2 linked regions of the Homo sapiens genome follow. The protein of the gene in region 1 interacts with the protein of each later gene in a pairwise test. Each region holds a gene or a part of one and is shown in the gene's direction. Other genes may lie near its edges. The genes, in order: TMEM109 and RNF170.

Region 1 (4,368 bases):
GAACTGGAGTGCACAAGCGCTGGAACAAGCCAGCCGTTTTTCAGCACCAGTGGGATCACACTCCACTCACTCAAGATTCACCGCGTTCCACCCCTCATAGGAGGGAGCGTGCAGGTGAGTGGGTGCAGGAGCCAGAGCGTGCGCTTTTGGACACCGGCAGGAGCGAACTCCGTGCAGGCCCCGGGGCAGTGTCCAGGCAGAGTGCCTGAGGCTCCTGAAGCCCCAGAGGGCATGTTACAGTGTTCTTTTGGCTCTGTCGTCCGTGGACAGCTTAAGTGTTAACAGCTCCGTGGGCCCGCGGTTGCCCTCCACCAGCAAGGGCAGAGGGCCAGCGTGACAGCTTTTGTATCCGCACTCGTGGCTCCCGAGCTCTTGTCCAGCGTCCAAGAAAAATAAAGCTGCACGAACAAATTAAAGGACAAATGCCTGGGATTTTATTGCTGATCAAAGTGGATTTCAGAGGGAAGGTGAGCTGAAAAGAGGGGGGTGGGACAGGCCGGTATGTAGTCTTCCCTTGAAGTCCAGCTATCTCCAGCCAGATTCGTCTCAGAAGTTACGCCTTAAGCTGTCCCTCTGAAGACAAGCTGCTTCTCTCTGACATCCAGCCATGGTCGTCCCCTCATCCAGCTGCTTCTCCTCTCTGCCAGATGAGTCTGGGGTCTTTCTAGGCACAGGATGAGGCAGGGCAGAGCCATGGGTGGCTTAGGAAAAGGCAACATTCAACTGGAAAAACATGGATAGAAGTTCTCACTTTGGGCCATGGTTTCAGGCTTTTTGGCTTGAGGGTGGGGTTTCACCAGGGACCCGCTCTTTTCTACCTAGCATTTATCTGCCTCCTGTCCCTATGCACTGCCTTTGTGGCAGAAAAAGGAGAGTGAGAGTTGGTTCCTCTCTTTCTCTGAAATTCTGAGCTAACATTTGGGAGCCGTCTACAGTATTCAGGTATGAATTTTCTCTCTGGGGGAGCGCATTCGTTTTCCTAGAGCAGTGTGCTTTTAATTGCTCCTTTAATATCTTTCTCTTTTGTGCCTTTTTAGCGCGAAAAGTGTATGGGAAGACTAGGTGCTCGTTAGCGGCTCGGTTAGAACTACATTGCCCACAATGCCCCAGGGAACATTTGTAGCTCTAGAACTACATGACCCAAAATGCCGAGTGGTGGCAAGAGGAGGATTAGCTTCCACTCCGATTTCAAAGATCCAGTTTACCCACTCTACAGCCCAGATATAGTCACTTATTTCCCCTTTCCAGCCAGAGACTTCCGTTCCCTGCTGGAACTTCCGATCCCATTCTTCTCTCGGTGGGAATGCTTGTGGGGGGAAAAAGAAACGCAATAGATAAAGCGGGGCGCATGCGCTCCCGGCACAGGCTTCGATTGTGAGGAAGGCCGGCTAGTCTCCGAGCTCATCCCGCCTTGCGCATGCGGAGAAGGTAAACCAGCGCCCCGAGTTGAGGCGCGGGTTTGGTGGCGCGTTTCAGCGAAGTCGCACGTGAAGGATAGCAGTGGCCTGAGAAAGGTGAGAGCGGGCCGAGGTCGGAATGTGGGGCAGCGCACGGGAAGGGGAGACAGCAGCCGCTGCAGGCGGCACCAGGCGGAGCCGCGAGGCCTGGAGAGTCCGAGTGGGGAGGGGTCCGCGCGCCCAGCGTGCGAAACAAACCGGGGACCCGGATCCCCGTTGCTATGCAACCGGGGGCGTCGTTTCCAGGCAACCCGGGAGGCGCACGTTTCCGGGGAGAAGAGGGTTGCGGCGAGGTTCCGAGGTCCGGCAGAGGTGGAGCGGCTCCCGGGCGTGGGGACCAGGCCAGCGCCAAGCCCGAGCCCCCGAACCCCGACCCACGGCCCAGCCTCCTGCAGCCTCGGCTCGAGCCCTTCGGGGGGCCCCAAACTCATGGGTCGCGCCACGTTCCTTGCCAGCGACGCTACCCCTCAGCGCTTGGCAGGGGACGCGCCGTTCGAAATAGCACATGCCACTGACACCCTGTCTCCGGGAGGCTGCGCCCCGGTTAGGGCGCGGAGCGGCAGGGAAGCTGCCCCTTTGCCGTCGCCCTGCCCCCAAACAGTTGCTGGGCAGCAGCTGTCAGGGGTTTAGTGGGAGCTGCCCCCAACCTGCCAGGGCGCTGACTTCATTCTCTGCAGTGGCGGCTTCGCCTTGTTTAGGACCTTCCTTTAGACTCAGCTGTGCTTCTCGTGTGGCTGCTGTATATTTGGATCTACTATTAAAATAACCTCCCTCCTCACCTCTCCATGGCTTTCTCGTTCGACCCTCACGGTTTCTTGGCAGGTTGCTAATATTCATTTAATAAACATTTATTAGTCATCTTTCCTACTAGGCGCTGGGGATTCCAACATGTCAAGTCTAACCGGGAGTCGCTCGGTCTACTGGGGAAGGCAGGTTGATAAACTGCTAAATTATGCTACGATATATAGTCAGTGGTAATGTGTGTGCTGCAACATTTCTATAGATGTTTAGTTTACAAAGCGCTTGCTGCAGAAATATCTTAACTCCTTACAGCAACTCTTCACCTGGGTTCACTCCCTTTTACGTTTGAGGAGACTGCAACTCAGGCAGGTTAAGTAACAGGCGTAAGGTAGTAGCTTCTAGTCCGTGGCACACTTGAGCCTGGGACGGAAGTCAGGGGTCCTTTGTACACTGCTGCACTTTTGAAGCTTTGCTTAGACTTTTCCCTGAGCTGCTGGCTATGCATCCGAAATTCCTGAGGAGCTTTGCAAAACAAAGGGCTGAGTCCCTCTCTGGAAGAGTCTGAGTGAGTAGCCCTGGGTGGGGCAGACGTCCTTGTTTAACAGGCTGCACAGGCAGTTCCGATGGGCAGCCAAAGTTGAGAACCGCCGCTCCTTAGGGGCAGCTATGAGCAGCGGCGGGACAGTCAGAGCCGGTAGAGGGCACTTTTTGCCGCCCCTCCTGCCACCTGGTGATTCATAGCATGAAATGAAACTAACAAAAGGAAAGAGAAGAGGAGGAAGGAGCCTTGATTGGGAGGGGGGGGCGCGAAATGCCCCATCCTACCCTTGTAGCAAACCACAGCTAAACATAAGCAGTGGCGCCTTCTCACTAACACAATAAGTAAAGCTGTTTCCCCAGCCAGGCTGGGCTCTCCAGACCCACCTGAGCCATATTGCAGCTGCCGAACAGAAGTGGCAGGTTTTGTCTCCCACCTTTTGCTGTCCTCTCATACCTCTTGGTACAAAACCATGGCCTGTAAGCCCAGAAGGCAGATGGTCTCCTGGTATGTGTTCCCTCGGAGGAGTCTGGATGTCCTTCCACTTTGAGCTTGTTGGTGAACTTCAGCTCCATGAGGGCAGGGACTATGTCCACTATCAAGGCAGCATGCGGGTATGGGACAAGCAAAAAGGCAAGATTGAGATCCTGGGTACTGGAGTCAAGTCCCAGCTCTGCTGTGTGATCTTGGATAAGTCACTCAACCTCTCTAAGCCATACTTTTCTGAGTAAGATGAAGAGGGTAATAATACCTTAAAAGATTGTTGTTAGAGTTAAATGAAGTGATGAAACAATAAGCACTCTGTGAATTATAAAGCACCACACAAAAATTATTATAACATATGTATATGTATAGATATGTATAACATTTGTATTATTATGAGTTGTTAATTGAGTGCCTATTATTTGTCTGAGGCCAGGCATTGCAGAAGGTGAAGAAGTTTTAAGACATGCTTCCTCCTCTCAGAGGCTGAGACTGTTTCCATGCCTTTAGTAAAACTATTTGATTAGGCCAAAGTGAGGAGGCCTAATAGCAGTGAGTCCATACTGCCTGAGATTCACCTGGAAAAAAATGAGAAGGAATCCTATTAAAGAAAACAATTTGAAAAAGCAGACCAGCCAGCCAATCTCTGCACTCATTATCTCCAAAGGATACACTACACAATCCTGTTAGGTTTGGTATCTGGTGCACTTCAGAACATCAGTCTGCATAACGATGCCAGCCTCACTGCAGAGGGCTTATTTCAAGGTCTCCTAGCTCCCCTTAACTGGGGCAGACAGCCACTGGAGAGTTGGGGCTGGCACAGAACAAGGCAGGCTGCTGTGGGAGGAGCAGCTTATGGCACCCTGACCTCCTAGGGCTGAGGAAACGATATTTGATCCCTCCTGGTGGAGGTCCTTGGATAAAGGATCCAACCCAAGATAGCAACCCTGCTCTTTTAAGTCCCCAACATGGTTATGACCCAGATAGCTCAGGAACTCACCTGTGCTTTCCTCATCTGCGACCACTGGCAGGCAGGAACCATCTGGTTCTTGATTTGTGCCAAAGACAGTAGAAGGCTTTCCCAGCCTGAGGGCCTTCTACATGAATTGCATGTTTTTCAGCCTTGCTTGACCCTCCAGGCTTCTGGAA
Region 2 (3,220 bases), on another chromosome or scaffold:
GGCATGAGCCACCACTTGTGGCCCAATGTCTTTGAATGTTCCAACTCCTTACTGTGGCTTACAGGGCGCCACATGATCTGGTCCTCCCTCCCTCTCCAAATTTCTGTTAACCGCCTCAATCACCACCCTGCAGCCACCCTGCTCTATGCTCTCAGCACACACACAAACTCCTTCCACCTTAAGGCTGTCACACCTGACACTTCCTCTGCATGGAATGCTTGTCCTTCTGCTCTTATGGTGATTTCCCAGTCTTTAAATGACAACTATCTTAAGTAGACCCTCCTTGGAGAAGTTTTCCCTGCTCTGTGGCGCCCTCTGTACCTTTCCTTCATGGCGTTTATCATAGACAGCACTCAATTCTTGTTCATTATCTTTCTCTCAGTAAACTAAAAGCTTCATAAGGGTAAGGACCATTTTTATTTATTTACCACTGCCGAGTTTCCAACAGTGCCAAATTTGGTGCCTTAATGTGTGTTGAATAAATGAATTACTGTTAAGATAAGAATTGATACTGCTGCTCCCAGCCGAATATATTAAGCTATTCAGATGCTTCAGTGTTAAACAGACATGTGCTCATGCTCCATTGTTCCTTGTTCTGTGAGGTCGTGTACATTTCAGGGCATAGATTTCAACTGTTATGGATGATAATGGGTAGATTTACCCATTTTTCATTGAGCAGGAAAAAAAAAAACTTAATCCAATCATGTTGTCCTCCATAATTATTTGGGAGCCTCTTCTGCAATTTTGACCCAGCAATTTTTTTTTTACATATCCTCCGGTGACATCAGTAGGATGGTTCTTTAAAAATGCAACCTGTTTCAAATTTAAGAGCTACCACTAAACTTTAATAAAGTCATTTAACATTTTTCTTTTCATTTCTTTTCTTTTTGAGACAGAGTCTCGCTCTGTCGCCCAGGCCAGAATGCAATGGCGCGATCTCGGCTCACTGCAACCTCTGTCTCCTGGGTTCAAACAGTTCTCATATTTCAGCCACCTGACTAGCTGGGATTACAGGTGTGTGCCACCATGCCCAGCTAATTTTTGTATTTTTAGTAGAGACGGGGTTTCACCCTGCTTTCCAGGCTGATCTCAAAACTCTTGGCTTCAAGCGATCTGCTCACCTTGGCCTCCCAAAGTGCTGGGATTACCAGTGTGAGCCACTGCATCCAGCCTTTAGAATTTTTCCTTCATTATTTTTAAAATGTGAAGCATACTATTACTCAATTATTATTTTTTGTGTCAGATATTTAATGAGTAAGAAAGCCTGGTATGTGATGAAATTATAATATAAAAAAGGCATTTAGCTCTTTAATATTCTGCCTCCTTCAAAGTTGGAGTAAGTTTATGCAGAAACATTTCTTACTAAACCATTTCATTATTTCTGGTCTAATTATTAAAGATTTTGTATAAATGATGATACTGTATTACAAGTGAACAAAATAGCTCTGAAAAAGGACAGAAGGGTATTCAAAAGACATGCTGGCTGTTTGTTAGAGTATCTAAAGTCATTTACTATAAACTTTGTGAAAGCTGTAAGGCTGTTTTGCTTTAGATATTAGTTCTTCCACAGAACATAGGAAGTGATTATGAAACAACCATTCTTGTACTTCGGTGAGCATTGTTCCAAAAGGAGTCACAAGATGATTTTCTCTTAGTCTGGGGGTTTCAAAAACTATTTTCTCCTCACTTGCTCAGTTCTTTGCGTTTTTGTCTCCATCTCCCTCTCAACTTATTTGGCACTTGTTACATAAAACGCCTATCTAGAGTTTGCGTGTATGACTGTTACACAGATTGTTAAACATAGCAGAGAAATGACCAGAGGAAGTGATTCACCAGAAGGAATCAGTTTCACTGCTATTCTTAAACTATTTAAGCCATCAAAGTTCCTATGTCTTTAATGTATAATCACTTCTATATTGTCTGGCAAGTTATAAAGGTCTTTCATACACAGTATCTCTTTTAGTTATTTTTTTCTTTTGAATTTTTAGTCCGCTTGCCAGGGAACCTTTTCGTTCTTAACAGTCCTTGCACATAAATACACAGTTAGTTGTTGAATTATCTCTAGTAGGTTAAGCAACTGTTCCTAAGATCACCTGGCTAGTAAGTGATTGATTTTGAATTCAAACCCAGATCTGTCTGACTTTAAAGCTGAGACTTAAGCTCAAGTCTCAGACTCTAATCCTGCGCGCTAGGTTCTTTGGTTTATTTTACTAACTCAAATCAGATGTTACTTGAGTTTTGCATTACTATATCCCGTATTTTAAGCTTGTTGACACTTTAGTTGCCTTTCAATTATCTGCAATAAGATCTATTCTGTAAGAACTAGTATTCAAAGAGCTATTTTTAAATACAACACATAATTAGAAAATATGTTCAATTAATGTGTAACTCCTTAATTCATCTTAACAATGTTTACATATAGTAAGAAAATTATATTATTTTGAAATCTGACACATTAGGTGCTGAATCATAATACTTGTTTTTCCCTCTACCAGATTATGGAGAGAATTATGGATCTACCCACTTTACTGAGGCATGCATTCAGGGAAATGTTTTCAGTCGGGGGCCTTTTCTGGATGTTTCGCATCAGGATAATACTTTGTTTAATGGGAGCTTTTTTCTATCTTATATCACCTCTAGATTTTGTACCTGAAGCCTTGTTTGGAATTCTAGGCTTTCTAGATGATTTCTTTGTCATCTTTTTATTGCTTATCTACATCTCTATTATGTATCGAGAAGTGATAACCCAAAGGCTAACTAGATGAAAAAGAAAACAAAACTGAGTTTACTAGGATATCTGAGCTAATGTAGAACATCAAACAGAAGGACCCATGGCAGTATAAAGCAATGAAGCAATGGAGTATTATCTCACAAATATAAAACCACTATAAGACAAACATTTGATTATCATTTGACAAATACCTAGGTATAACTGGAATTTTCATGTTTGAAGTTCTAATATTAAGTTTAGAATTATAATGATCTACAGTTGTATCTTGATTCTATGTTGTCTGGAAAAAATATGGAATTATATAAAAAGGGATGCTTTTATATATTTTTCTTTTCCCCAGAATTACTTAGATTAATTAGATGTATAGTAAAATATTGTTAAATGTCAGTTTATCCATCTTATCCTTCTCAGCAGGTACCTATATGATAATATATAGCTGTGAAACTCATCTAAATATTTTTGTTCCAATAAAATATTATATACTATTGG

Evidence for each region.
Region 2: the proteins of TMEM109 (region 1) and RNF170 interact in binary tests that used the Homo sapiens proteins (3 or more experiments, as listed by UniProt).

The regions. Positions count from the first base shown.
Region 1 is NC_000011.10:60,912,755-60,917,122, forward strand, and holds the start of TMEM109 (voltage-gated monoatomic cation channel TMEM109 precursor), read left to right. Parts: upstream 1-1,403; 5' UTR 1,404-1,514; intron 1,515-4,368. UniProt on the Homo sapiens protein: Functions as a voltage-gated monoatomic cation channel permeable to both potassium and calcium. Plays a role in the cellular response to DNA damage.
Region 2 is NC_000008.11:42,855,704-42,858,923, reverse strand, and holds part of RNF170 (E3 ubiquitin-protein ligase RNF170), read left to right. Parts: intron 1-2,495; coding exon 2,496-2,765; 3' UTR 2,766-3,220. UniProt on the Homo sapiens protein: E3 ubiquitin-protein ligase that plays an essential role in stimulus-induced inositol 1,4,5-trisphosphate receptor type 1 (ITPR1) ubiquitination and degradation via the endoplasmic reticulum-associated degradation (ERAD) pathway.